Linked DNA regions of Homo sapiens: all the other regions are linked to region 3. The links come from fine-mapping of genetic effects on gene expression. A gene starts in region 3. Each other region holds a variant in brackets. All regions are shown on one strand. Distances are from middle to middle.

The links. PIP is the estimated chance that this variant, and not a neighbour inherited with it, causes the effect.
Region 1: its variant is the best candidate, but not a certain one, in a credible set for the expression of DGKK in whole blood (TOPMed, PIP 0.62).
Region 2: its variant is the best candidate, but not a certain one, in a credible set for the expression of DGKK in whole blood (TOPMed, PIP 0.64).

The regions. Positions count from the first base shown.
Region 1 is chrX:50,375,374-50,385,677 of GRCh38, reverse strand. DGKK (diacylglycerol kinase kappa) reads left to right here. Exons shown (of 28, transcript NM_001013742.4): 16 at 854-958; 17 at 1,414-1,510; 18 at 3,075-3,182; 19 at 5,601-5,697; 20 at 5,944-6,051; 21 at 6,987-7,100; 22 at 7,446-7,580; 23 at 8,760-8,920; 24 at 9,513-9,654. Among named protein-coding and RNA genes, the nearest start is that of DGKK, 90 kb to the left of the region's middle. The variant C/A (reference allele first, on the strand shown) is at 4,710.
Region 2 is chrX:50,396,293-50,406,596 of GRCh38, reverse strand. DGKK (diacylglycerol kinase kappa) reads left to right here. Exons shown (of 28, transcript NM_001013742.4): 5 at 2,413-2,548; 6 at 3,000-3,106; 7 at 3,414-3,536; 8 at 5,458-5,560. Among named protein-coding and RNA genes, the nearest start is that of DGKK, 69 kb to the left of the region's middle. The variant C/T (reference allele first, on the strand shown) is at 4,706.
Region 3 is chrX:50,465,100-50,475,403 of GRCh38, reverse strand. It overlaps DGKK (diacylglycerol kinase kappa), which reads left to right and starts at 4,579. Exons shown (of 28, transcript NM_001013742.4): 1 at 4,579-5,370. The coding sequence starts at 4,726. RefSeq lists an enhancer at 4,619-5,416.

The DNA.
Region 1 (10,304 bases), 90 kb after region 3:
CCCTTTGGCTGGCCCTTGACTTTTAGCCATGGTGCCTTGCCCTGCCTTGGTACCTTCACGTACAACCTCAGCCAAGTTTCCTAGAAAGAAAGAAAATCTCCCTTCTGCACAGTGGAAGGATTAAACAATCAATTTGCCTCTATTTCTATAATTAGTTTCCAAGCAGTGTGGATCAGATTAAACGGATGTAGCCATAACTGTCGCAACCAACCCTCAGTCTGCTCCATCAACACATATGTTAGATTTAGAGGTGTAGCTTGTGGCTATGAGATAGGAAAATACCTCCCTGGTAGGGGTAGAGATTGAACCTATGAGCTTTGACACAGGCTGAGACTGGGCATCTCAGCTATACAACATTTGGCTGGTGAAAGGAAAGAGACTTCCCAAATGTTCCAGGTGTGGAGTGAGACATTAGAGTGAAAGAGTGGCACAGTCCTAGAGGCTCAATTATAGACAAAAGCCACATAAGTAAATGAACTAATAGAATGGAGGTAGAAGAGCAGAGAGTTTCCCATGCTGATACCCCAATCCACAGCCACAAGCTTCTACTCACAACCACATGTACTGGGTGAGAGAAAAAAGAGTAACCAGTAAAACAAAGAAAGCTCAGGCATGAATATGAAAAAACAGCAACACTGTAAGCAAGCTGAGACTACAAACAGTATCATGGAGGAGACGTGATGGTCGAATGGGAGTCTCCATCATCTACCCACTAACTAAACAAAATAGATGCTCGATAAATGTTCAATAAGTGTAATTAATCTTTCCTTCCTTCCATCCTCCCTCCCTCCTTTCTTCCTCCCTCCCTTCCTCCTTTCTTTTTTGCTTTCCTTCCTCCCACTTTTCTCTATAGCTCTGGATGAGGAAAGCAGACAGACAATATCTGTTAAGAACTTTAGTTCAACTTTCTTCCTGGAAGATGACCCAGAAGATATTAACCAGACAAGCCCACGACGCCGTAAGGATCTTTCTGTCTTCTTCCCTTATTCTAGCCTTCGTCACTGTTGTTTAGCTCCCAAAGAATAAATATGTATTTTTTATGCATCCTCTTTTAGCCATAATCCTGCAGTAGATACCCCTCCGTCTTTCCCAGAAACTCACACTATAAGATCCCATGCCAATGTCCAGAGTAATGACCCCATTAGGAACATTGAAGAGGCTGGCCTGATGAAATACAAGATTTGAAGTTGTTTTCACTGCCAGCAAGCAAGCAGCCCAGCTTTATTCTTCTCTCAGTGGAAGTCCCTATCCATCCAAGAGGATCCCTCTTTGGAATTAGAACCCTTAATATTATCTAGGAGAAAGTCACTGAGCTTGACCCTGCCTCCACAGAGAAAATAGGGCGAAATACAAGTGAGGGGAAAGGGCTTTTTTGTTTGTATCCGTCACCCAAGTGATGTCTTTTGTGTCTAGGTTCTCGTCGTGGCACTTTGTCTTCTATATCTTCTCTCAAAAGTGAGGACCTGGACAACCTTAACTTGGATCACTTACATTTTACACCTGAATCTATGTAAGTATTTAACTCTATCACCTTTTAATGGCTTCTTTCTTTCTCTTGTTAAGAGCACAATCTTAGGATATCCATAGTCAAATCCTTTCTCTTACTTACTAGCTGTGTCACCTACGCAAGTGACTAAACCAGTGTGAGCCTCAGTTTTCTCATATGTAAAATGAAGACCATTGTAGAACTTGCATCATGGGTTTGCTGTATTTATTACATTTATATATGAAAAGTACTTGCACTGAGTAGTGCTTGGCACCCATAATTAAGTGTTATATGCATTTGCAGTTATTATTGTTATTATTATAAATAATTAATAAATGTTAGTTGTTGTTATTACAGAGGACTTGCTTTTTTTCACTGTTGCCCTTAACAGTAAATGGTTGAAGATACTAAAAACTAAAATGGTCACTAGGGGACTAGGCAGCAAATCTAAGGACATCTGTCTCACCAGTTCTCCCTCTTTAGAATATCGGCAGCAGCCAAGTTCTGCCACACTCACTCATTCTGAGTTCCATTAAGAAGATCAGTTTGGACATTAGTTAGAGAAACTCCAATCTCTGGACTGTGGTTGAGGGAGGCAAATCTCATGTGAGAGATGTAAGGTCAGTATGGTAATGAATAAAAAAGTAATCTAAGATTAAACAGCTAAACTGTATCCATTTAATTTCTCAAAAGGACACAGCTAGAAATTATTTATGTTTTCTTAAATAATTTATTTAAGAAAACAATTTTTATTCCTGTCTCCAACCCGCATTCTTGCCCCCACACTTCACCATTGGCTCAAATTTATGTCTGAGCTCTCATGGATCTACCTAATGAATTTTGATCAATAGTGCACTGGCAAAGTGTTTAACAACCTCCTCTCTTGGGGGAGAAAGCCCTGATTCATTTATGGTGTAAACCCTTCCACCATGGCCTATTTAAGTTAGTGATATAATGCCATTGAATCTGGAGTTGGAAAGAGATATGCATAATCAGTTTACATGAGCTGGTGCCAACTGGCTATGGCACACCACTGGTTTTGATGCTGACACCCTAGATGGACACAGGAGACTTGACAAATAATTTGGCTTTTTTGTTATGTACATATCTACCCTCTTTTATCAGTCTTTCCTTCCAAATGTGTGGTCATTTTCCCCTTTGATGTCGGACATCACTGAGAGCAGTTGTGCAGACTTAACTGTCATGGCACGTTTGTGTCTAGGATATTCAAAAGTTCTTTATAGGAGTAAACAGTATTTCCCTTAATACTACATATGAAGAAAATATGGGCCACTCATACATAAGGCCTCCAAAGATGACTAAAATCATCAATGTTGCTTCTTTATTATGAGTTCCAATCCCACTGAAGCTTCCCAACTGGCGAGGCACTCCCTCTTACAGCTAATAAGCTAGTTGTTCACACAAAAGGATATCTACATGTGCCTCTCAAAAATGTTATAGTTAGTGCCCAGTGTGGAGGGGGCCTTCCCTCACTGGTTTTCCATCATGCAGATTCATCTTCATGCCCAATTGATAGCGGCACTTCTTTCCTGCACCAATGTCTGTCCTCTTCTTTGAATAATTTCAGACGCTTCAAAGAAAAATGTGTCATGAACAACTACTTCGGAATTGGACTGGATGCTAAAATTTCTCTGGACTTCAACACCAGAAGAGATGAACACCCAGGGCAATACAAGTAAGGAAAAGAAACTCCCTTCCCTACATGCAAACACACTATCACAATACACATACGTATTCCTACATTCTCTACCTCTCAGACAAGCAACAGAAAGAAAGGGACCCACTGGAAGTAAAATGCATTGGCCCCAAGACTAGTCTAGCGGGACAGTGTGTGCCAAATTTTGGATGACTGCACTGGCATCCTAAACTTGAGCTGCCTTCAAATCCAGACCTGTGGATTTCTGTGTAAACACAGCTACCTGTGTTACTGTTACTGACAACAGATTATGTTGACTCAATTTAGCAAATCGCCCACCTTTGTTCTGTCTGTGAAAGTTTAACCAGGTTTCAGTAGTGGCTTCAGATCTGTTTTCACTTGACAAAGTTGCAAAGTATCAAACATCCCTCTATTTGTTTTTGGTGTTCCTAACCTGGTTCCCCTGAACCCGTTAATTTTACCCTATCCAGTGTTGGCCTGCATGGCACCTTCTCGCACTTTCATACTTCAGACAAGGCCTAAGTCAGTCTCAGAGTTCTTGTGGTACATTGAAGCTATAAGTAAAAAGTGTGACACCCCACCCCACAACACCCCACCCTTGCCACCACCACTAGAACCTCTTTCTCAAAGCAGGCCTGGGCTGAGAAACAGGAACTTTGTCAGATATGTGATTTGCAAATATTTTCTCCCAGTCTCTTGCTGGTCTTTTCATTTTCTTAGTGGTATCTTTGAAATACAAAAGTATTGAATTCTAAGGCGGTCCAATTGATCAGTTTTTTTCTTTATGGACCATGCTTTTGGTGCCATCTGTAAGAAATCTTTGCCTAATCTGAGATCTTAAAAATTTGCTCCTAAGTTTTCTTCTAAAGTTTGTATTGTTTTAGCTCTTATTAATACATTTAAGTGTATGATCTACTTTGAGTTAATTTTTACGTATAGTGTGAGGGTCTAAGGTAAGAGTCTAAGTTTATCTTTTTGCCTGTGGATATCTAATTATCTCACCACCATTTTAATTTATTTATTTGTTTATTTTTTTTATTTTCTTGGAGACGGAGTCTTGTTCTGTCGCCTAGGCTGGAGTGCAGTGGCATGATCTCGGCTCACTGCAACCTCTGCCTCCTGGGTTCAAGTAATTCTCCTGCCTCAGCCTCCCAAGTAGCTGGGACTACTGGTGCATGATACCATGCTTGACTAATTTTTTGTAATTTAGTAGAGACGGAGTTTCACCATTTTGCCCAGGCTGGTCTCGAATTCCTGAGGTCAGGCAATCCGCCCGCCTCAGCTTCCCAAAGCGATAGGATTATAGGCATGAGCCACCGCGCCCGGATCTAGAGCCATTTTTCAAAACAGCTATCCTTTCCCCAGTGAATCGTGTTGGCACCTTTGTCAAAAATCAATTGACCACAAATGCAAGGGTTTATTTCTGGACTCTCACTTCTGTTCTATTTATTTATGTGTCTATCCTATGCAAGTACCACACTATCTTGATAACTATAGCTTTACAGTAGTTTTTGAAATTGGGAGATGAAAGTCCCCCACTTGATT[C/A]TTTTTTTCAGAATTGGTTTGTTCTAGGTATTGTACATTTTCATATACCTAAACTCCTATTTTTGTAGATGAGAACACCAAAGTGCCCAGAGAATGAATGGTTTAAACAGTGTCTCAATAATTTTGTGCTAGCCTTCTGACATTTCAAAACTCATTCCATGTGATGATGGCTCATTTCTGTGGCTCTACTTTACAAGCTCCAAGTAAACTATATCCAGCCTTTCTAGTGATCGTAAGTGCCCCACCTATTTCTATCAGAGATTCCACAGTCAACAAGACGCTGTCCTCCCCACCTCCACCTCAAGTCACCTGATATCCTTTCCTGTCTCCTATTTTTCTCCACTGGCTCCTCCTCTAAAATCTCCCTACAAGCTTAGATCTGTTCCATGGCATTGAATTAGGCATTTAGTATATGGATCTGGTGTTTGGAAAAGTACTTCACTTTGCCAGAAAAGTTGCTGCTTCAAAAAAAATTGCACTCTAAGAGTCACGTGTTTCAAATGAAATTGATTCCAAGCAGCTGAAATCTCCTGGAGTAGCACAACTAGGGTAGCTGGTGTGTACCAGCCAGCTACGCTCATAGCTTTTTATGAGCATTGATGTCTGAATATAGCCTGTTTCTTCCAAGTCTGGACCAATATTGGTAGCAAGCAGAAATGGAAAATTTATTTATTGATAGGATACTGAGGCTTCAAAGGGGCCCAGGAACCCATTTCTTCAAGTGTTTGCATTGGATATCAGTTACATTAACCGCTGTCCAGTTGCCATTTAGCATGACTCCTCTCTGTAAGAAGGCATTTGAGAAGTAAGATGGTTTTCCTTCCTGTCTTTTTCCACCATTTATCTATATATCATTCACCCTCTGCTTTCTTAATGCTTACCTCCATGTAGTAGCCGCCTTAAGAACAAGATGTGGTATGGCCTTCTGGGAACCAAAGAACTTTTGCAGCGCTCTTACAGGAAACTGGAAGAACGAGTGCATTTGGAGGTTAGTGGAAAAGCGGGTAGTCTTTCCTGGGTATGGAGAAAGGAAATCTCATGGCCTTGGGAATACCGTACATGCTGATTCTTCCTGAGCTTTAACTCTGTGATCCTCACAGCTCATGGGAGGAAGGCATGAAGATAGATTTCCATGTAATGGAAGAGAAGACAGAGCCCTTTCCCCATCTCTGTAAATGTTCCTTCATGTTGCTATCTAAAGATCCAGCTAATGAGAGCTACTCTTTTCTTTCAGTGTGATGGAGAAACCATCTCCTTGCCAAACCTGCAAGGCATTGTAGTGCTCAACATTACCAGCTATGCTGGAGGTATCAACTTCTGGGGAAGCAACACAGCAACCACGGTTAGTATGGAACAAGGAATGGGGAGGAAGAAAGGCATGATCCCACTAAGGTCTCTCTGAAGGAAGCATTGTGCTAACTGAAGTGAAAAATAGACAATGGGAGAAGAGGAGGTGGTCCGAGAACCTTTATTAGCAGCAGCTGTATGATCAGTTTTTCAGGCAATTACCATCCGAAAGCAGAAAATTCAACCAAAGACCTCAGGATAAGGTCAACTCGTAGGTGTTGCCTGGGCTTTGGATTTTCCATTCCTCGGGTCTGACAGATCCTTTAAAGGCTATCTAGACCATGCTTTTTTTTTTTTTTTTTTTTTGAAACGGAGTCTTGCTCTGTCATCCAGGCTGGAGTGGCAAGATCTCAGCTCACTGCAACCTCCGCCTCCCAGGTTCAAGTGATTCTCCTGCCTCAGCCTCCCGAGTAGCTGGGATTACAGGCGCCAGCCACCATGCCCGGCTAATTTTTGTATTTTTAGTAGAGACAGGGTTTCGCCATGTTGACCAGGCTTGTTGACCTTGAACTTTTGGCCTCAGGTGATCCACCCACCTTGGCCTCCCAAAGTGCTGGGATTACAGGTGTGAGCCACTGCGCCCGGCCAAGGCCATGCTCTTTTCTCCAAGGAATTCTGTCAGTAAAATCTCCTGGGATGCTGACCATGACCCCTTTACTCTGAGTTTACCCAAGAAGGTCATAAGGCCAATAAGACTGGCCTCAGGTATTTATGATGCTGGATTGGAAAAGGAGGGAACTGGCTAAGAGTGCAGTACCCTTTTCCCAGATTGGCTTTCTGACCTCATCTTTTTCCCTTTTAATAATGAAGTGTTTCCACTCTTCATGAGCTAGAAAAATTCTCACCAGGAGCCTTTAAACATGCCTTCTTGTTATAGACAGGGTGTGATTTCTCAAGGGTGGGAGATGTGACACAGTTCTTCCTCCTCAGGAATATGAGGCTCCTGCAATCGATGATGGGAAACTGGAGGTGGTGGCAATCTTTGGTTCTGTGCAGATGGCAATGTCCCGTATCATCAACCTGCATCATCATCGCATTGCCCAGGTAGGCAGGGGCTGGGTGGGCACTGGGAAGGGGCTGAGGTTTTTGACTGCTACCCAGGATGTGGGATAGTCCCAGGAATTAACTGGGTAGAAGAATGCCAGGGTGGAGTGAGCAGGTTATCTGGTGGGCAGTAAAGTGCTGACTGAGGTTGGAGGCAGAGGTGGCAGAAGCCAATGGAGCAAAAAGCCCATAGGAAACAGGCATTTCTTCCTGGGATGATCTGATTCACATCCTTTCCAGTCCTGCTTCAGATACACATTCAAGGCCATAACTATGAGATTATCAGATAGAGTTACAGCAGTTGCCCCATTTTTCTCTCCCATTCTTCCTCATTTTCTCTGGCAGTGCCATGAGGTGATGATAACCATTGATGGTGAAGAAGGTATCCCAGTGCAGGTGGATGGGGAGGCCTGGATTCAGAGACCAGGCCTTATCAAAATTAGATACAAGAACGCTGCCCAGATGCTGACAAGAGATCGGGTAAGGGGGAAAATCTTGTCTTGGGCTCCTATACTGCCTCATCCATAGTCACTTGAGTACTGAATATTTCCACTCAAGCAGAATTCCTCAAAAGGAGGTCTGTGTGCCCCTGGCATCAGAGTCACTTGAGATGCTGGTTATAAATGCATTCTTGGGCCCCCACACCAGACCCACTGAACCACATAGGGTTGCATAGTTCCCAGGAACCCAAATTTGCAAACAGGCTCCTCAAGACACTCTGATATATACTGACATTTGCAAACACTGTCCAAGAGAGTGAGACAAGGAGCTTCCTCCCCTGGTTTTCGACAAGGTTATCCTCCTCTTTCCACTGCAAAGAGAGCTAAAAGCGTCAGATGATTATGGAAAAATCTTCTCCTTCAGCAACAGATTCTGCATTGAACATGGTCTTTAGGTGTCTCTAAGGTTCCTTAAAATGCTGCATTAATACATGTCATCCACTTCAGCTAAAGCTTCTAAAGCTTATAAAGGAGCTATTATTGATCACATATTCAATGCTTGGAGGTTATCTTGCACTCTAACCTGTGAAAAGTCCATGGAAACAGCAATAGAGAAAGGAAGAGAAGTCCAGTTTATAAACTGCCTATTCTGTGCTAGGCATTTTACATTTCTCTCATGTAGGTTCTCTCCACAATCTTATGAGGTGGATACACTTATTCCCATTTTACAGATGAGGAAAATGAGGACCAGAGAGGTTAAATAATTTGCTAATGGTCACACAACTAGTAAATGACAGAAACACGATTCAAAATTAAATTAGATATGTTTGGCTCTAAACTGCATCACCACATATTGCCTACATTTGGCAAAGAAGGGAGCATGAAAGGTGCTCCACTGTCTTGTCAGTCATGATGCCTTCATATGGGAGCTTCTAGAAACCAGACATGTGTATGATCCAAGCCTGGTGTCCCAAAATCCAGCATACTCAGAACAACAAAAACTAAAGGGCATAGTCCAGAAGAGATTGAATAAAATGATGGATACTTGTATAGGTATATAGATGGGTATGACAGGGGGAATGGACAGGGGGCCCTCCTTCCCCTCTACCCACTGTACCCACATACCCATTGCCCACAAACGTCAGGCTCACAGACAGATCTGTCATGTGCACTAGTAGCTACAGCAATCATTAGGATATGCCACTGTATTCATCTCCAGGACTTTGAGAACTCAATGAAAATGTGGGAATACAAGCATACTGAAATTCAAGCTGCCCCTCAACCCCAGCTGGACTTCCAGGACTCTCAAGAGAGCCTCTCTGACGAGGAGTATGCCCAGATGCAGCACTTAGCTCGGCTTGCAGAAAACCTCATCAGCAAGTAAGTGGACTGGCCTAGATACAGGGCTGAGAATCCTAAGAAGGCATAGGGAGAAGAAGCCAATTTGTGTCTATTGGCTACTAGGGAGCCTGGCCTCAGAGAGGAATTTAGCTTAGAGCTCTAAAAATTGAGCGGGACCCTCACAATCCAGGCAGGAAATATTCTCTGTGCTCAGCAATAAGCCAGGTTAGACATCTCTCATTAGACCCAGGGATTAATTTGGATCTCTTGTTGCTAATCCAAACCCAATAGAACTAAGACTGTTTACCCTTGCCCTTAAATATCAGGAGGGCCTTGGAGTTCCTAGAGTCAGCTGCCCTCCTCTGTTCTAGCCTTCTACCCTCCCCAAATTCCCAATATCTAAATTCAGGTGAGACAAGGATGGGTAAAGGTAAATACCTAGAGAAGAGTAGAAACATTTGCTAGCATAGGTGGCTACCTAGAGAAGAGCAGAAATAACAGGAGGGAGTCATGAGTCCAAGTCAGGTACCCAGGGCTTTCACTTCTACCCTTACCCAAACCCTCACCAGTGCCCCAGGCCAGAAGTCCTTCAGAAATCCCAACTCATCTATCTGTCCTTGCTTTATTACAGACTTAATGACCTGAGCAAGATCCACCAGCATGTGTCTGTCCTCATGGGTTCTGTGAATGCCAGCGCTAACATCCTGAATGATATATTTTACGGCCAAGACAGTGGCAATGAGATGGGTGCAGCTTCCTGTATTCCCATTGAAGTAAGTAGAAAGGAGTGAATTAAGGAAAGGAGTCAAACCAGATAGGAAAGAGGATGAAAGGGAAAGAAGTGGAGCCGGAGGCTGGACGGAGAAACTGGGCAAATATGGCAGGAAACTGATGGAGAGAGTGGACGGGAAGGCAGGCATTCCTTGACTTGTTACAGGTCCAAGGTGGTTGCTGGGGGAAAATCACAGCAGATTTCATCAGCCTGAGAGCTAGCCCTCTTCCCTGATAGCCATCCCTCCCACCAGCTTCAAGGGAGAAATGGACAATAAACGAAGAGAAACTTGTACTTGGCCCTTCCTTATCACAAGTAGATCTCTGTATAACCTGATAAGGGAACACCTGTCATTGGAACTAGAACTTCCGGGTGCCTCGGTTTTCCTCTTGAGGGAAAGGTCCATATCAGGCAGGACACTTAATGTTAAATGTGTCACCCCATGGCTTTGTCCACTGCCAGAATTGTTAACTGATGCTTTTAAAAAGTAACTTTAGTGCTAGGCGAAAGATATAATTGTGTCAGGGCCTGATTACAGTTGGAGGAGGCCTACAACTCAAGGCCTGGAGTTGCAAGAAGAGAGATGTTAGGCCCTAATTTCACCTGCCCTGGAATGATGGTTTTGGCCTAGGACAACAAGTAGCCTTAAAT
Region 2 (10,304 bases), 69 kb after region 3:
TCCCCTGTGTCTGTGTGCTCTGTATCTTTACAAGGTGTTCTCCTCTTTGTGTGTGCCTGTCTGTGTCCAAATTCCTCTCTTCTTATAAGGATACCAGTCATTGGATTAGGGCCCGTTCTAATCCATTATGGCCTCATCTTAATTTGATTATATCGGTTAAACCCCTATTTCCAAGTAAGGTCACATTCATAGGTACCAAGGGTTAGGACTTGAACATATTTCTGAGGGGACACAGTTCAATCGCCACACATACTCATCCAGGGTGGGAAGCATCAACTTTTTCTTACAGAATAGGATGTACACAAGGAATATAAATTCCATCACCTCAACTGCTGAACCTAAGTAATGTCCATTTTACCTATTCCTTTGTATTCTGTAGGCAATTTAGATGATGAAATTTAATATTATACCCAGGCAGAGCTCTGAATTTCTTCCACGCAGTCCTGTGAAACCTTGCACATTCTAGAAGAGCTTCACTTGTCACTCTATACAGGAATGATCTGTTTTAGAATTTGTTTCCTCCAGTAGACTATAAATTCCTTGAGGGAAACAACTATGGTTTATTCATCTCTGCATCTCCAGTGCCTACCATGGTAGATGATACATAATAGGTTCTTAGTAATTATTGGAGGAGAGGAGACTGGGAGGGAAAAAAAAGATGCTTGTAGAATTACAATCTAGTGACTTGGGGAGTAGAAAGGTTCTAGGAGCTCAAAGTGCCAAAGCCAAGAGTATGTCACTCCCTCAGGACTCTCCATCTTCTATTCTAATCACCCTAGAGCTTTCCAGTGTCTTAATGTACAATAAACATTACAATCACAAAGCAATCCCAGAACATGTGAGCCTTTAGTTCATCAAAATAGCTTTCCCTTCCAGAAGGTTCCAGGTTAAATCAACAGTAGCTTAGCACGTAACCAGCATGCCAGAAGTGGGAAGGAGTGGTCAGAGAGGGCAATGTGCAGGCTATGTCTTGGATATCTAATTCATGTAAATTGATCAAGGATGAATACTTAATGTGCTAGAGCCCTCAGTAGCTAGCTCTCTCTCTCTCTCTCTCTCTCTCTCTCTCCCCCCACTGTCAACTGATGTCAGAAAGAAAATATAGTTCTTTTTAAAGTCTTGTCATGCCTTTACACACCCAACTCATTATAATGTCAAGAATGAAAAGCTCTGTGTACGCCTATGTCTGAACTTCAGGGGAAGGCAGAGAAGGAGAAAATCAGACATTCTCAGGAATTAGTGAAAAGGTGTAAGAGTCCTTGGAGTTTTTTTGGTGCTCACCCTTCCCTTCTTTCAATCTCAAAACTGTTGCTGGTATACCCTTGCTTTCCCTACAGTCATGAAAGTCAGGCTGTGAAATACAAATGCAGCATTTAACAAAAAATGTTAAGGCACATTAACAAAAAATGTCAAACTCAGTACCATGAAAGAGGACACCAAAAAGAATGCCACTCCATGTAGGCAGGGGTTGTGTCTTGTTCACTATATCTCAAATGCTTTGAAAAGTGCCAAGCACAAAGTATTTACTCAGTAAATATTTGTTTAATGGATTATTGGATGAATTAAGCTGATTAATCAGGAAACTGCTGTAGGCAGTCAGAGCGTGGTATTCCTAAAAGAATACTCAAGGGATTCCTAAAAGAATCCCCTGAGATGAAACTGTCGTCCAGGTAAAGCAATGCTCTGCTCACCTGGCAGCCAGGAAGGAAAGTGTATACCTCCAGGAGGTAGTTAAAGCCTTATTATAATATTCCCTAGCCCAGAGTCAGAGCCTTACCTCCTGTCTTTATTCCCTGGCTAGAGAACCAAGGCCAAGGCTAAGACAACACATTTTTGCTTGAACTAAGACAATAGAGTGATTGGCCAAGCAGTATAAAGATCATTACTCCTGGCCGGGCACAGTGGCTCACGCTTGTAATCCCAGCACTTCAGGAGGCCGAGGCAGGCAGATCACTTGACCCCGTCTCTACTAAAAATACAAAAATTAGCCGGGCGTGGTGGTGCATGCCTGTAGTCCCAGCTACTTGGGAGGCTGAGGCAGGAGAATCACTTGAATCCGGGAGGCGGAGGTTGCAGTGAGCCGAGATTGCGACACTGCACTCCAGCCTGGTGACAGATCAAGACTTCCTCTCAAAAAAAAAAAAAAAAAAAGATAATTACTCCTGCCTTCAGCTTCTATTCCAGGGTCTGCCCCTCTATTATTTTTCTTTTTGAAACGACTGGCAAAACAAACAAAAACGCACACAAAGTATCCCAGGTCCCAGGTATTGGCTCCAACTTTCAGTCTTCCCCTTCACACGCTCTGACACCTATACAGCAGGCCATTTTAGACTTAGCAGCAGATTTTCAGGCCCTCTTTAATCCGTCTCTGTGATTCATCCTCCATTCTCTCTTCTCGTTTATTTATTTTAGATACCTGCAGCAGAAAACAACCCTTTTCTTGTTGGAATGCATTGTTGGTACTCCAGTTACAGCCACCGGACCCAGCACTGCAATGTTTGTCGAGAGAGCATTCCTGCCTTATCTAGAGATGCCATCATCTGTGAAGGTACCTTTCTGATTCCTTTAGGAAGTGAAGCTCAGTGGGTAGATATAGGGATGAAGGAACTCATGTGGCTTTAGTATCATTAACTCATACTAGGTCACTGACTCTGGTGTGAGGTTAACCCTGATTGAGGAAAGAAAAAGGGAGGAAACTAACATAAAGGGGATGAAAATAGAAGGATGAGTGTGGGGGGATGGGACTATATTATCACAAGTGTTAAAAAGACAGAAATCACCTCATTCTTACCATCAATTTTCATTCAAGTTGGATAATAAAAAGATTAGCCAGTAAGAATAAAAAGGAACTGGATCCTATTGGAAATAGGTTTTTGGAGGTGCATTAGAACTATTTAGAATGCATCTGTGTTCTAACTTTCAGAGCAGCTTTGGGAAGAGAATTAGAATCCTCACTGTCACCAGATTCACACCCATCTTTTCTCTTCCTCTTCTCACAGTGTGCAAAGTGAAATCTCACAGATTGTGTGCTTTGAGAGCAAGCAAAGACTGCAAGTGGAATACATTGTCTATCACTGATGACCTCCTTCTGCCTGCAGATGAAGTAGTAAGTACTAGCCATGTCTTCCCACAGTCGGCCTCTCCCATGTCCCCTTCAACCAGGATACACAGGGGGAGGAAGACTTCTTCCTAACTCCAGATAAGCAAAGTCCTAGGCTCACAATCCAACTTATCTGGAAGAATGAACCTCCCTCCTCCACTTGTCATTGTTCACTTGCATTGGAGTAGGGAGGGCAGGGTCATTTGGGTCATTTACCTAATGTCCTCCATGGAGTAGTACAATTATTCCAGTTGGCCCTTCCTCTCCTTATGTCTCTAACTTCTACCTCCTGTGTCTTTTTACCCTTCTGCAGAACATGCCCCATCAATGGGTAGAAGGAAACATGCCTGTCAGCTCTCAGTGTGCAGTGTGTCATGAGAGCTGTGGCAGTTATCAAAGACTTCAAGACTTCCGCTGCCTGTGGTGTAATTCTACGGTAAGACTCTTCTCATCTTGATATTTAGAGAACTTAACTCCTGGCGAGGGAGTGGCTTAGAGCTTGACCATGTATACACATAGATAGAAATCTAAGAAACTCTTATCTCAAAACAGGTTAAACAGATTCCATAGTATAAATCTTAGTATCCTGCCTTTCCAGATCTGACTATGGAGCCTTTCTTTGGGAGAAAGATTTAAGACCATCTTTGTTGCTTCTTAATTGGTGAGGCCTACTAACAAATGGGAAAAGCTGAGCTCTCTAATGGCAGTATGGGCAATTAAAAATAAGTTCTGAGTCTGCCTTTGAGAAACCTACTCCCTTTCTCATTCACTATTTCCTAGGAACTTGTAACCTTTATTAATTAAAAATGGTTGATAATATTAACACATTATTATTGCCACTATATACTGAGTGCTTAATATACATGATCTCATTTATTCCTTCCAATAAGCCTAAACCGGGCCTCATTGTTCCCATTTTACAGATGAGGAAGGTGAGGGTCAGAAAAGTGAAGGGGTCCAAGGTCATTTGGACCAATTTCATTTGTCCAAGGTCATTCAGCCAGTAAGCAAGAGTCTTGATTCATACATAATTCTGCAAAGACTATGCTCTTTTTTGTTTTGTTTTGTTTTTTGTTTTTGAGACAGGGTCTCACTATGCCGCCCAGGCTGGAGTACAGTGGCACAATCACAGCTCACTGCAGCCTCAAACTCCTGGGCTCGTGTGAGGTGGGCTCCTCTCACCTCAGCCTCCTCAGAGTAGCCGGGACTACAGGCACATGCCACCATGCCCAGCTAATTTTTTAATTTTTTTGTAGAGACGGAGTCTTGCTATGTTGCCCAGGCTGGTCTCAAACTCCTGGGCTCAAGTGATCCTCCTACCTTGGCCTCCCAAAGTGCTGGACTTATGAGCATAAGCCACCGTTCCCAGCCGACCACACTCTTAACTACAACACTACCATGCCTCTAAACCAGTGGTCCTCAACTGGGGGTAATTTAGCCCCCCAGGAGACATTTGTCAGTGTGTGGAGACATTTTTTATTTTTGCAACTCAGGGTGGAGGGAAGCGCTACTGACATGGAGTGGGTAGAGGCCTGGTATTCTGCTGAACCTCCTACAATGCACAGGTCAGCCTCTCATAACAAAGAACTATCTGGCTCAAAATAT[C/T]AGTAATGCTGAAGTTGAGAGACCCTGATCTAGATTTCTAGCCTTTTAGATGCTTCTCCAAAACTGAGTTTTCTAGACAAGAAGAAACTGAAGTATGGGCTTCTTCTTAGAAGACTCTGGTTGTCCTCTGTTTTTTTTTTTCAATTGCTTTTGAATAACCAGGCCAGGTTCATTCCCCCTAGAAAATGTGTAATTTTCCAGGAAGTGGCACTTGAAGATGTCAGAAATCTGGAAAGAATGGCCGCTTGTGGGAAAGGCAGCAGAGTCTCAGCTGTCACTTCCCAGCTGTTTGACCTTGGGCAAAACCCTTTACCTCTCTGAGCTTTGGCATCTTCATTTTTAAAATGAATTCAATAGTGTTTTTTCTACCTCACACACCTGTTGTTATAAGGATTGAAGTGTAATATTAGATTATTATTATTAACTCTTTTATACTGCATGTAAGTTCCCCATTCTGCAGGCCACTAAGGTTGTGCCTTAGAACTGGTGATTTCTCAGTGCCTGTAGGTGGGTATCTTCTGAAAGCTACCTTTGAAAGGACCAGAGTTCTGAGGCCACACTGAGAGACAGTGTAGGCTCAGAGTAGAATGGGGGTGTTCAGGTGAGTTAGGGATATATGTATGGCACCAAATCTCAGAAAGGGAGATTAAATACTAAGAATCTAAATCTTGGTATTGGAACTCAAGACTGATCAATGATATCCTTTTCTCTCCCCCTCCTTTTTTTTCTCTGCTCTTCTCTTGTCGTTTCAGGTGCATGATGACTGTAGGAGACGGTTTTCCAAGGAATGTTGCTTCAGAAGCCATCGCTCATCAGTCATTCCTCCCACTGCTCTAAGCGACCCCAAAGGCGATGGTGAGTAGTTAAATCTTAACCTCAGAAGCACATTGGGCATGTAGGGAAGGTGCAAAGGCTGGGAAGAAGCACTGCAATTAAATTATTCTCCTCAACCAGTCAAACATTTTGGGGAAGTAGGACTGTGCATGTGTATATAGATAGCTCCTGGTTCTCTTACCTTTGGGATTGTGAATGTTGTTCTTTCTGGTGTATATGTATGTGGGCATGTTCTCTGTAGCTCGGTCACAATTGTTTCTGATCAGAATTGATTTCAGCTTTTTCATGATTTCCAAACACTGGATAAGTCATTAAATAAGTTTGTGTCCAGGTGGTCAAGGAAGAACTTCATGAAGGCCAGGTTATCTTACTTTTAAAATGGAAACAAACACCAATGTTGTTCCTAAATATGAAACTAACATGATCATTACCCCAACTTCACTGATGCTTTGTCAATTCCTGGACTCTAGTGATTTATTAAGAACTCTGTTCTCAAGGTGTCTGAAGGCTACAGAAAGATCTAAGACATGGGCATTGCCAGAGCTATTGATTATTGTGGATTCAGGCTACTGATATAATACAACAATTAACAATTTGATGTGTCATATGCTAAGTGCCAAGGGAATGGTAGAGACATTTGGAAATGAGAAAACCTTAGAAATATTAACCATTTATAGGAGGTTGAGCGGAAAGGAGGTAGTAATGAAATCAATGCAGCAAGAATAAACTTTGTATAGAGTCTTCTATCAAGAGGTCTAGCAATGTTAGAACAAAAAAAGCAGAAGCCAAGAAGAAGGGTATTTTGTATAGTTTTTGTGTTTGTTTAAGAATAAGTAAGACATGGAGGTATCATGACGTAAGGAAAAAAAACAAGAGCTAGGCAATTATGAGCTTTAGTTACTTACTAGATATGTGATGTTGGGTTAGTCACTTACATTCTCTGAGCTTTGCTTTCCCCATCTGTAAACGGGAATGAAGCTATCTATTGTGAAGATAGATGATAATATGTGAAGGGCCTAAGTATCTAAAAACATAACCTCAAAGGACCATAAAATTAAATCCCTCAACTTCTTGGGCAACTAAATATCTAGTCTCCTAGCCTAATAAAAAGTGCAGACCCCACAGGGATGATTCACTCTTTGGCACCTGCCTTTTGAATTCACCTCTCCTTCCCTACTTTTTCTTTGTTTTTTCTGAGAGACTCTCCTTTTTGCCATTGACTTGTTCATTTACTTCTCCCATTACTCATTATTAAAGAGTGGGAACTGTCAAGATCAAAATCATATATCACAGCTTAAAAGACCTAACCTATTTTACTAATACTAAGAGATTTAGAAATCTAATATACTTACCACTGACATACTACTATTTCACTAAGCCAGGGAAGAGATACACTGCTCATAAATTTCAGTTTGTGTATGATTAGTTTCACTCTATATATGGTCAATTTCACTTACTGGAGGAAAGTTCAAATTCTTCCTGGAATGTTTTAATCTATATTTCTCTAATTTGCTAATTTGTCCATCTCTGACGTGTGGGATATCCACTGGTCCAAGAGTGATTAGTGAGCCCTCGTTTCACTGACTTAAAAATTATCCCCACATAGATGCTAGTTGCTCACTTCACTGCCAGGGAAGAGCCAGCATTAGCTGGAAGCAAAGAAAGGAAAAGAAAGAAGAGTAGATGGTTTCCTTAGAGAACAGAAGGGGGCAAAGATTCCTGTAGCCGTTACAACATAGTTTTAGAACTAGACATACCACATGTGTATGTGCGTGCTCATATATATGTGCACGCGTACACACACACACACACACACACAGCCACTCTAGATCCTTCCGGTTATTTTTCCAACCCTAACACAGATATAGCTAGACCTTAGTACATGGAATGAGCCATTCATACAGGTTTCTGCAGGCAAGTATACTCATATGTCCCCATAATAACATGTAAAGACACAAAACTGAATTTCACTCAGGTATACATGCATATATTATTCTCAGATCTACTCAAATAGTTATCCATATGGAGTCACCCACCAGGTAGTTGACCAAAGAGGTGATGAAATTGATGACTTAGTAAATAAGAGATACTTGCCTAGTTAGGAGAATGAGGGACTAGGGGAAGATGCAGTTGATACAAGAAGAAAAGTAGCAAACTGGTCAGCTGAGCAAAATCAGGCTGGTAGTGAAATCAACCTAGTTTTGAATCTGAGACATTTTGCTCACCCCCACAGGGACCTGACAAAGATGTCTTTAAGCAGATGGCCCACCTCAGCATGCCACAAATGACCCCAAATAGGTGTTAAGAGGGTTGCCGCCTCTCCTTTGTAACTGGGCCAAACATGTTCTGTGCTTCCTGTCCTTGTGTTGGTGTTTTTAAAATTTATTTCTTCCTATCCTATATCACTTCTTATGCTTGTTATAGCTTGTCAAATAATGGCATTGTTACTTTCTTCTTCTTTCCACCAGTGATATAATATTATTGCTTAGGAGCACCTGGGCTAATCTATTCTTTTTGTTTGGTGTCTTATTTAATATCCCATGAGTTAGCTTTTAACTTTTCCTCCTAGTCATCTGCAATCTTGATCCAATTGAATCTCACTCACTGCCAGCCCTTCTTTCTATCATGCATTACTTGTCCTAGAACTTCTTAGAAATGTCTTTCAAACTTCCCTATCTTCTTGACTCTGTCTTCCTGGCTTCTTGGCTGTGGCTTTATGCCCTTTAATGGGTAAGTTTCCTACTGGAAGGTCCCATCCCAGAGGAATCTTTTGCATCTTCCAGTCATAGAATCTTAGCCATGTGAGGTCCTTAAAGATGGTCTGGTTCAATGCCCCCTGGCTGAGCTAGAGAATCCTTTCTTCAGCACCCAGCTGAAGTCATGAGGGCATCCAGCTCATGACTTTCTGAGAAGGCCCTTGCTAGCGTTGAGTCACACCCATCTGTTCACGTATATATTTATTCAGTCAGTAGACTCTAATTTCTGAGAATTCCTTCCAATTATCCCTTTTTCCTATCCAGTCTGCTTGGTATATTCCTTCTCTTATCCTTTAGGGTCCAGCTCAAAATTAAACATTGTCTTCTCTGTTTGACAGCTTCTGTAATGGCCTCTTCCCACTCTCCCAAACAAATCAATTACTTCTATGGCTATAAACCAAGAAGACATATCTCAAAGCACCTAACACATGACATTATAATGGTGTCCATCTTCCACCCCAGACTGTGAGCTCTCTGTATCCTTAGCACTTGACTCAGACCTGGGTATACGGTATACACACAGTCAAGATTTGTTACATGAATTCCTTAATACATTTACTGAATACTGCCTGTATGTAAGGCTCAATGCTGAGCAACGACTAAGATAGCATCACTGGCTCATATGGAGAAAAAATAGTGAAGTGCAGTGGTTGTTGTATCAGAAGCATCTGAAAGGCTTGTTAAAACACAGATTTCTGGGCACTACCCCCAGAGCATTTGATTCAGTAGATCTGGGTGGGGCCCAGGAAATTGCATCTCTAACAAGTCCCAGATGTTGCTGATACTACTAGTCCTAGAAACACACTCTATCATTTACTGTATGCCCCTGGACAAGTTACTTAACCTCTCTGTGGTTAATCTGGCATTTGTTTTCTGCCAATAAGGAATAACAATTGTACTCAGGTGTGTCATGAAGGTTAAATGAGTTGACATTTGTAAGGGAGGATTTTAAAAGTACGGGAAGAGAATGGTAAGCCAACCTATGCCAATTTCGCATCTTTCTTTGGAGTGAACAGAATGAATTTGAGTGGGACTGTTGGCTCCCTGTTTAGGGCACTATGGTTATATTAATGCAGCTCAAAGAAACATGAGCTTTTTTTGAAAGGTTCTTTCAGGCTGTTGACTCATCAGGAGCTTAAAGTCAACTAAGTCCCCTAAGCTCTTTTCACACTTGATGCTGCCAAGTCAAGTTCGTATTGTCCTGTTCTGGTACAATTTATGTCCTTGAGCCTAAAGGGCAAGCTTCACATTTATTCCCTTTACATTTCATCCCTGGACTTTGACCAGTCAGCCTGTCAAGGTCACTTTTCAATCTTGATTCTGTCATTAAGTATCTCTTCCTCCAGCTTTGAGTACTTCAGAGTTCACAAGCCAGACTTCTATGTTTCCATGTGAATTGTCAATTAAAATTGTGGAATAATACTGGGCACTCCCTTATGATTAACATCAGTCTATTCAAAAGCAATCTTGTGGAAAGGATTGCCTGGTTATAAATCTTAACATTATTACATTTCTGCCCTCAGTGGCACCCATCTTTGTCACCTGGTTCACAAGATTCTCTTGACAAACTTGGCCTTGCTGAAATTCAGATATTCTCTTCCTCAGGGGGAAATACTAGATGGAGCTGCCCCTGTAGTCTCCTGGGACTGCCTTCCTGCTGGGGCTATGTCCCACTGTCTTCCCATCCACAGATGAGGTTTGATGTTAAAGTTCAAGTTGCCTTAATTACAGAATTTTCTCCCTAAGCTTCCTATGCTCACTCTAGTTTACACCCTCATGGCTATTTAATTTATAGACAGCATTAGCATAATTCTTTTTTCCTATTTCTTAATTCAATTCTTGTCTAGTTAATATATTCACATGGTTCAGTTTTTTAAAAAAGAAATACATATATACACATAATACTTAATGAAAAGTCTTGCTGCTATCTTTTCTCTGATCTTCTCAATCTCCTACAGCCCCCATATCCTCACTCACAGTTCAATACTGCCATTAGTTTCTTAAATACC
Region 3 (10,304 bases):
ATGCCTTTCCACTTCCCCTTTGCTGATCTATGTTAATTGCATCATTCAAGATCCATTTCAAGATCTGTCCCCTTACAAAAAGCTGTCCGTGATTCACTCACAGGATTGCTGATATTTCGTGCTAAAACAGACTTTAGAGCTAGATGATCAAGCTCAACTTTATTCCCACCTCCATTTTTCATACGAGAAAACTTAAGGCCCAAAGACATTAAATGATCTGTATAAGGTCATGTTGAGAGTTTAGTGGTAGAACCTTAATATGAAGCCAGATTTCCTGACTCCCCTTGCAATTTCCTTTCCGCTCTGTCACACTTAGTCCCCACCCACCCCCAGCCCCCCAGAAAAGTACAAAGTGTGGTGTCATGATCATAAACTGGCATCTGTGTTTGGATTGCTTTTCACCTGTATTTGGCTTATCTTGACCACCAAGCTCTAATAATTCTTGTGGGAAGGATCACGTCTAATATTTCTGCCCTTTCTCCTTCCCCAGGACACCTAATAGGGCTGTATACACCACAGACTGGCAGTAAATACCGCTTAACTGTGGAGTGCTTCACTTCAAGAAAACATAAAAACAGAACCAATAAAATGAGTATACCCTGGTTGAATTATTATATTACATACATATTCAAAAATGTTCCTCTAAACAGGGACCTCCTATAGTGAGCTTGGTTGCAGATCATTAACTGCTGTCCAGAAAGAGTGAGAGCTGAGAAACCTCTGCTCCTTTGACAAGCTCAAGAAAGAAAAAGGCATTAAGGCAGCCTTCCCACTCTGCTATGAAGAGGATTTACACAGACCCTGTCTCACAGCCCCCAGCTCACAGCCCTCAGTATTGTGCTCTGGTCTCCCTCAGCTGGAAATTGAGTGACACAAGTTCTAAATGTCTGTTCCACCACTAATTATCTCTGTGACCTAAGACATGGCACTTAGTCTCACTGGACTTGTGTTTTCTCATCTGTTAAAGGGTAGGGGACAGGGGTATGTGATGGAAGTCCGAATTTGCTTGCCTCACACATTTGTTGTGAGGCTGAAGTGAGATAATATATGTGAAAGTACTTTAGAAATAAAAAGGCATTATACAAATGCAAGGTATTAACTTTTTAACTCTCCAATCCTATATCAATTAATCCTAGGAGACTAGAGTGAGTAAAGGTTAACAGGTTTGCATTTTAATCCCAGCTAAATTAATAGTCTGAATCCTCTACCTTCTCCATACATGCTGCCTGTTCTTCATCCCATCTCCTTATTTTATTTAGTAGATTATTATAAAGGTTGCTATTTTGGCTTGGCACATCCCGAGGTAGTACAGTAGGGGAGGTTGGCAGCTGCTAAGACTCGGGAGAGACACTGATTTCTTCCCAAATTGCTCTAAAAGGGAGGACTTAGGGAATTTAAAGCTACTGATCAAGGGGGGAAGGGCTTCCACTCTAGCAATACAGTGCCACTCTCTCATTCAATAATGAAAATGAAATGAAAACAGGAAGGGAGAAGAGATTTAATTTTGTCACATTTCTCAGCTTTTCTCTCCTTTGCCTCTCCAGAACTCTGAGCACGGCTGAAATTGAAGGAGCTCCATGCTGGCTTGGATAAGCTTTATTCTGGGTAGAATCAGAGTAAATGCTGGCAGTTGGGTAAGGTAGTGCATTGCATATTCAAAAGATATGAGCCTATTGTACTGATCGATCCTTCATCCAGCCCAATCAGGTAACTTATATAACATGCCCAAAAGTCCCAGGCTAAGGACCATTTCTGCCCTGGGACATCCAGAACTATGTTCATCCAAGCCTCTGTGGATACGGTCATCATTCCAGATATGTCTGGTTAAAGAAATTCTTATGTACCTCTTTGCCTTTTTAAAAATCTGTATTGTTTAATTAAAAGAGAGCCTCTTAGGAGATCATTAATCATTTGAAATATCAAATAGTGCTGAAAAGCAAGGCAGAAAAATACATCCTAACCAGTAACCTACAATGAATCATCCACTTAACAGACATTTCCTGAATCCTGACTATGACCTCAAGTCCTGGGTTAGGTTGTGAGGAAAATACAGAAGCATCTAAGTAAAACTTTATTAAGAAACCAGCAGGTTATGGGAAAGAGGAAGGTGTAGCTTAGTTACAGCAAAGGTGCCTCCCCAAATCAGGTACCAATCAACCATTCTGGCCATCCCTCTACTCTGCCTCCAATGTAAAGCATGGTATTCAATGCTGGGCTAAGGAACCCCCGACACACACACACAAAGAACCCTTACTATGATATGAGGCAATAAGGTAGCTAATGATGGGCTGAAAAATAATTTTTTAAAACCTTCAAAACTAATCATAATGCAGTTCAGGCAGTATATCTCCAGTAACCTACCCTAATGGAGCAAAAGCCATGTACAAGCAACTATTTTAGCATTCAATCTCAAAATGACCTTGTAGCAAGAGTCTACATCATAAATGTTGGCCTCATTATAATTGAGTGTAGAATTATAGACAAGAGTTTCAATAAACATACATAAAGCAGTAACTCCAAGTTGTCCCCTGGTGGTATCTCGCTTGACAATACACTGTCTATGCCAAACCCCAAGAGGCCATCTGTAACCCAAGAGGCCATCTTACTCTGTGACTGCTCAGCCTTCAGCCCTTCTAACTACATGTTGGGTTTAGTAAAAAGCAAAATTTAAATGTGGGATATCTGCCCCTTCTAAGGACAGGGATTCCATTAAGGTGTGAGAGCCAGAAAAGTGATCTCCAGTCCTGGACTTGCTGGTTGGTCAGATCTGGCACTTTAATGCACCAGATCCAATAATGAGATCTGGCACCTGTATATTTCAGTCCTGAACTCTTAGGGTTAAAGGCGGCTTGGCTACTTGAGTGTGGGATAGGGGAAAGGAGAACAAGCCCAAGGAGGGTGAAGAGAGTGGGCTCCTAAGGTGAATTTACTGGAAGGAGGACTGCCACGTGAGGGAATTGATAGGGCTCACTTCTCCTGGTCTTCCCATCCCCAGAGTTTAAGGACGGTCCCTGCACTAGCTTAGTAGCTGCCAAGCAGTGTTAACACATCTCTGGAAAGGTGGGCTTAGGCTGTGAGGCTGCAGCGAGGATCTGGGAAATGCAGACCTCACCAGAGATTCTGGTCTTTGGAGGGATTTAGGTGAAACTGTGCTCTTATGGTATTATTTATTGCTGAGACATAGTATAGGCAACAGAAAGATGTTGCAGATTCTAGAAAATTCTGGCTAGGTCAGTGTCCGTTGGCAAAAGAAGAGGGAATAGTGGGGGATATGGTCTGGGAGTAGATGGCTAGAGAAGGGGCTGCAGAAAGAAGGCTGCTACCCACAACTGCAGCATTATGTGTATGGGAGATAAATTCACTTGTCATATTTCAAATCAGGTTTACAGGTATTTCTCCCCCGTCCGCTCCCCCCACCCAGCTGTGGCTTAACAGGTAGTCTTCTCAAATTTTAATTACAATTGGTAATATATTGGCGTCTAAAGTCTAGGTCTGACTAAGATGATGGTTTGTGTGTATGTGTACGTGACTATAACAGAAAGAGCTTCTAAAGTCTTCCGATGTGGTGGGAAAGGTGCTGCGCTAGGCATCAGTCGTTCTCTTCCCAAGAGAATCTCCCATCTCTAATGTCAGACTGCTTCAGGAGGTGAAAAGGGTGTGGGTGTTGCAGTGAATTTCCCCAGCCCAAGACACACACACACACACACACAGACACACACACACACGCGCGCGCGCGCGCGCGTTAACAAGTTTGGGGGGGGCGGAAAAACAAACTCCTGCTGATGGCTGGGAAATCCAGCTAAAAGCACAAGGCAGGCTCCTATAGCATAGGCGAGCCAGACAGACGCCCAGATAGCCTCAGCTCCCGAGCGCGAAGCCCAGCTGCTGCCGGGGCACTCTCGACTTGCTCTCGGGGAGGCTGCAGGCTGCGGAAAGCCGGGGCGCCAGCCTCCCTCATCACACTCCTTTCCCGAATCACCTCAAACTCTGTACCCAACGGCAAAGCTCAGAAATGCAAAAAACCGAAGAGGGTCAAATTGTACTTCAATCCAAAGGAGGCTGAACACCCGCCCCCCCCGCACCCCCCCCCCCCACCACACACACACCATGCCGCTTAATTTCTTTTCCCGGCTTAGATAAAAAGCATTACTTGCCCATCGAGGCTTGGAGATGGGGGGCAAGAGGTTGGTCCGAGGCTAAGCTCACCTGCTGCTGAGGTGAGAGAGCAGACACAGGATGGAAGCTATTCTGACCAGCAGCTAAGTGGTTGGGGGATTGCAAAGACCCTCAACTTCGCCTCTGGCTTTTTTTTTTCATTCGTGTCACTAAAGGGTTAAACACGGCAAGGCTCCAGCCCGCCCCCCAACCTCCACGCCGCTCCACTCCCCCTCCCCTTTTTGTCTCTCCCCTCCCCTCCCGCGCGTCGCTAGGAGGTCATCAAGCGCTCTGCCCAGTCCGCGTTCGCAAGCCCCTCTGCTTCCCGCCCATCGGACCCGTGGCTGCTTACGAAGAGGTGTGCGCACACTGAGGGGCGTGTTCCAGCATAGGGAGACGCTGAGCGCCCACGGGTTAGACCTCAGAGCCAAGCCAGCCATGGAGTGGGATGGGGGAAAGTTTGGCACCCTGCGAGGGGCTGCCGGACTGGAGTGGGCGGGGCGCCCGAGGGTACTTTAGCCTTCCAGGCTTAGGGACTCAGGCTGCCCAGACCTGAAGCGGTGTGCGGCCATGGACCGCGGAGCTGCCGCAGCCCAGGGCACTGCCCCGCCTCAGGATGGAGAGCAGCCCGCTGAGTCTCCAGAGCCTCCGCCGCCTTGGCCGCCGCCGCCACCACCACCGGCTCCGCCGCCGGCTCCGCCGCTGCTCTCCGAGGCTTCGCCAGAACCCATACCAGAGCCCTGTCCAGAGCTTGCTCCAGGTCCCTGTCCAGAGGCGACCTCAGAATCAGCCACAGAACTGTACACAGAACCGACCCCAGAACCAGCCACAGAGCCGGCCTCAGAACCGGCCCCAGAACCTGCCACAGAGCCGGCCCCAGAACCTGCCACAGAGCCGGCCCCAGAACCGGCCCCAGAACCTGCCACAGAGTCTGCCCCAGAGCCGACTCCAGAACCTGCCCTAGAGTCGGTCCCAGAGCCGGCCCCAGAGCTGACTCCAGAAGTTGCCCCAGAGCTGGCCCCAGAGCCGACCCCAGAACCTGTGACAGAGCTGGCCCCAGAGTTCTGCCCTGAGGCGGCTCCAGAGTTCCGTCCAAGTCCAGCACCATGTCTATTGCAATGTCCGGTGGACACTCGAGAGAGAGGTCTAAAGACCTCGCCATCGCCATCGCCATCGCCATCGCCCAGAACGCCAATGTCGTGGTCCAGAATAAAGGTAAGCAAAAGACCCCCTGAAGCGGGGAAAAGAAGCAAGGCGAAGTCAGATGGCTATGGAGCCCGCGGGACTCCGGGTACCCCTTGCATCCCGCTTGTCTGGCACTGGCTGGCCAAGATGCTGAGAAAGATGCAGGGATGGGGAACCCGGGGGAATGGGAAGGGGTTGGGAGGCGGGAAGCAACATGTGGGAATCGAGAATGGGCTGTTTGGGGCTAGAAACGGGGGTGACAGCAGGGGGTGGGAATCGGAGCAGTTTTCCCCTTGAAGAGAAGCGACAGTGCGGTGAGCGCCAATATCTTGAAAGAGAGGAGGAAGATACCCTCGGGGAGCGCAAGAGACCTGGAGAAGTGTTTGGGGCTGGCCCCGAATACATAGCGGACGGATTGAGTGGGGGCGGTGGGACACACCTCTTAGCCGCGGTCACTGCCGCAGAGGCCCAAGCTGCGGAGCCTTCGCCTGCTTGGCCCCCTCCCTGCCACTGGGGAGGGGGCGCCTCAGCTGGGCGCAACTGGCGGCCCTCCAGGGAGGTGCCCGGCGCCTCTGCCGGCTGCTTCGAGCTGGTACTCCTGGTGAGGACGAGGGGATGGGCGGCGCCCACGCGCACTGCAGGGGAAGGGCAGGGTTCTCCGGGAGGAGGGGGAGAGCATGCGTGTGTCGAAGCCACCATTCCATCTGTCTGCAGGATTTCCCAGCAGGTAGGTGCAAACGCAGTGATACAATGTTGCGCAGCGTCACAAACGGGGCAACTGGCATCCCGCACCAGGGCCAATTGGAATGGTACAGGAGTCCTGGTTTAGAGACACGAAAATAGGAGTTGGGATTGCAGAACGTGTGAAGGGGAACCTTCATCTCTACCAGTCTACCGCGACGCCTTCTAAATCGTTACACTTAGCCGGGAAAAGATGAGTGGAGAATCTTCTGGCACTCGCCCAAGGGGAGTAGGGAGGAAAAAGGTTTTCGTGTTTACCTTGGACCCTGAAACCCCGTCTGCTCTTAAGCGGGAGTATGCCTGTCTTTCCTGCTTTCTCTGCACTCTCCCTACTCTTCCTTTACCCTAAACTTCGTTCCACAAAACTGAAAACCAGGATAATGCACACACACACCTCAATTTAGCTTCCCCTGCAGGAAGACATACACACGCGCGCGCATTCACACACACACACACACACACACAAACGAATAACACAACACACGAACAATACCGGTCCATCCTGCTGCCTAGCAGACCATAAGGACACGGCTCAGGAACCCTTCTGCTGTGGACCGCACACTTATAGAATGTAGAATGCGGGAGGGGAGGGGGCAGATTGGCATCACGAAATGGAAGCATTGGTTGCTTCCTGAGTTCTTAGTAGGGAGGCTTGAGTTTGCAAAATATCTGCAATGACGAATAACTGAAAAAGAAGGCTAAAATGAAAAGTTTCACAGAGAAAAGAAAGTGCAGAGGTTTAAAAATAAATAAAACATGACGGTGGGAGACTCTGATAAGTTTTTAAAAATTCAACACCCTAGCTCTCACCAGGGGATGTATCCCTCCCCTTCCTGAAAATACCCTTTCCTGCAGTGATCTTAAGAAGGGCAAAGTTGGGGTGGCTAGATTTGGGAGCTCACCCTCACCGGGTGATTGATCTTGTCTTTTTGGAAGAGTTTGCATTAAGCTGGTGGGAAAGAGACAAGCAGGAATCACCTGACCTGTGGCCATCTTAAGCGAAATTTTGGGAACATGGCTGTGAAACTGACACGTGGGGACGTAATACCCAGAGAATGCATCTCCCCTTTGGCCTCTGAAAGGCTGACTGGCGACCAGGACCCTTCCCCCAGTGAAAAGCATCCCCTGCTCCCATGCGAAAGCATCTCCTACCTGTTTGACAGGAAAATGTCATTGCCAGACAGATGAGGAAGATTAAGGTAAGGGGAATCAGATTAGTTTCCTCTACGTAGTGCCCACTCAGACGTGCTGGCTAGCTGACCCACAGACATCTGGCAACACTGGCAGGAGACCAGGATCCCAGGGGTTTGACTTTGCCCTTAGTAGAGCCAGACATTTGTTGAATCACTTATCTGTAGAATGGGGTTAAGAACCACGACCATCCGTTAAGAAGGCCATGCAGATTAACTAATCAGTGGCTCTGGAGAATTTTGAAGGATGTAAAGGATCTAGGTACGTGCTCAAATTAAATTGCTTGGAGCCAAACCCTTTTACAACACCCTCAATGTTGCTATGCAATTGCTCTCTGGTGCAGCTGGGAACATCTGATCTTCAGTGATAGGATCATTCTCTCCTGCATCTTCCTCAGACAAATGGCACCTGCAACCAGCTGGCTTGTATCTTAACATTCAAGGCAAACAGGTTGTCATCTTAGCTGGGGTGATGTTGTTTTCAAACACTGCCTCCTCGAGGCAAGCTTGGGGGGAAAAAACTGTGCAACACGCACAGGCGTGCACACACCCCTAACACACACACATACTATACATATGTGCCCAAAATGTCAGGGAACAAAACAAAATACAGGTCTCATCATGCAATGAAATCCTCCATAGCAAGCATGAAACTATCCTGATAATTCAAAGGATGAAATGAGCAAAACCAAGTGTTTGAATATGACTGCAAGTTTCTCCCAGATAATTTTGTTGACTGGTATTGTAGCAAAAAACCAACATCTTTCAGCCTTGTAGTCTGCTCTTTTTTGGAATTTCAGGAAAGTTTCAGAACCTGCAATTGACTGAGAAAAGGGGGCTCATGTTTTCTTTTCAAATAGCTACCAGGATAACACAGTCAGTCTGTGAACCAAACATGTCTATTTCTTTCCTTTCTAAAATGTTTCAATTCCCAGGAAATGAGCCATGGTCTCCCACCTGGTGGCAGCAAGTGTAAGTAAGGATGTGTGAATTGGTTCTTTAGCAATGCTATAACTCTCTTGGGGGAGGGATGGGGCTTATATGAAGTAGACCATGTTTCTTTCTCTCTCATCAGCTGTGCTTGAAGAAAGACAAAATTTTGTTTATTCATTGGGTTTTGACCAGCTATGAAATGAAAATCACATCATACAAATGATTGATGAAAATCTGAGGGGAGATACACTTTCATGGCTTTTGGGGGAGATAAAAGGGGTCTGTGTATCCCTCCTGATGACTGCACAGTAATAACCATTATCCTCAAACCATATCAGGACAGCTTTTATGCACAAAACTGATATTTTTGTACATTTTCTTGCAAAATAGCAAGCATTTGTTTATATGATATCTGGTGATTCCTATCAATATTTTATTAGTGATTTCTGAGCTTCTCAAAAATAGGGGTGGCCTTTCTCAGTGCCTAGTTCAATGCAGCCCTCCTTGATTTTGCTTAATAAACACTTGCTGAAGCTTGAAAACTATCCATTTCCAGCAATGTAGAGGCTGCTGCTGTGAATGAATAAAAATTTGTTCTCATTGGTTTCAGAGTGAGAAGTAAATACTTATTTAAATGGCATGGAATATATAGCCCTTAAGGAAATACAGTCAATCTTTCCATTTTCAGAGTGGTTATTGGAACTATAATTAAGAAGCAAATTACTAACAATTTTTATTAATGGCTTGGAAAGTGTCCTTATCCCATGCAGTCCCAGCAGCAGCAGACTAATAATGATATTGTTAGCTTCAGGGGATAATAAATTTTTTTCCTAAGTGAACAGAGTATCTGCAGTGACTGTAAACAGATTTGGGATTATAGATTCAGATGTTTAACCTGTTGAAGGTCAGAATGAAATTACTTTCTTTTCTCTTCAGTTTTTCCCCCCTCCTTGCCAAGCTTTGATGATACCATCTGATTTATTTGGTGTATTCTAATAGTTCCTAAGCAGTCACTACAGGGTGTTCTAGAAAAGATAATGAAGTATTGGTCAGTGGTCTTTAGTTTCTCAGAGTACAATTCTTATGCACTTATTAAAATCTCCGACTAGGGCTTCTGCAGATCTGCAGCCCAAAGGGAAAGTGCCTCCAAGGAAAGGCAAAAAAAAAAAAAAAAAAAAAAAAGAAAAAAGAAAAAGAAAAAAATATCCATAGAAACCAGGAAACCATTCAGGGGTATTCTAATAAGGATTATATAGTTCCTTCTGCTCCTGTGGCACTTTACAGTTTACAGAGTGCTTGCCTCTGCATTATTAACCCTTTTATTTCCTTGAACAAGGCAGCAGGTGGGGGAGGGCAAAAATAAAACTTGACAGCTTATAGGATGTAATGATTGAATTTTCTATTGTAGATTTTTTTAAAAATCTGACATATGGCCTTTTGTGATACATAGGATCCTCATTTGTCTAAGAACAGTCTTTTAGCTGACATTTCATCAGCTCTGAATTTTTTTCCAAAGCGGTGGTTGCTGCTCCACTTCTGATGCTCCCAGAGGGGGCCAGCATAGAAGAGGAGCCAGAGAAGAAACGAGAAGAGGCAGAGACCCTGAACCGATTACTCACAAAGACCTTTTTTGTTGGTGCGTGTGTGTTTTGTAAAGGAAATAAATTGAAATCCTGCTAAGGATAGGGTGCCCGACCTTTCCAAAGCCCACCCACTGTAATTCTTTCAGTGGAAAAAAAATAATTTTAAAGGAAAAAAAAAAAAGCAAGCAAGCAGCCATTCTAAAGGGAGATGCCCCACCCTCACCAAAGCAAATAGAGCTCATTCTCAAAATAATAAAAACAAATTTATGAATTTTAAAAACGAAAAGAAAGGGACAGTGACCCCAGATAATGAAATTTATCTCTCCTCTGAAAATTATTTTAAGAAAAAAAAAGAAACAGCTTCTAAAAGGAAGTTATCCTCACCCTCATCAAAGCCCATGGAACTTATATCCCCCAAAGAAAAATTTTAAGATGAAAAAAGAGAAATCATCTTAAGTTAAACAGTATTTCTAACCTTAAAATATTCATGAAATTTGTAAACTTTATTTGACTTCAT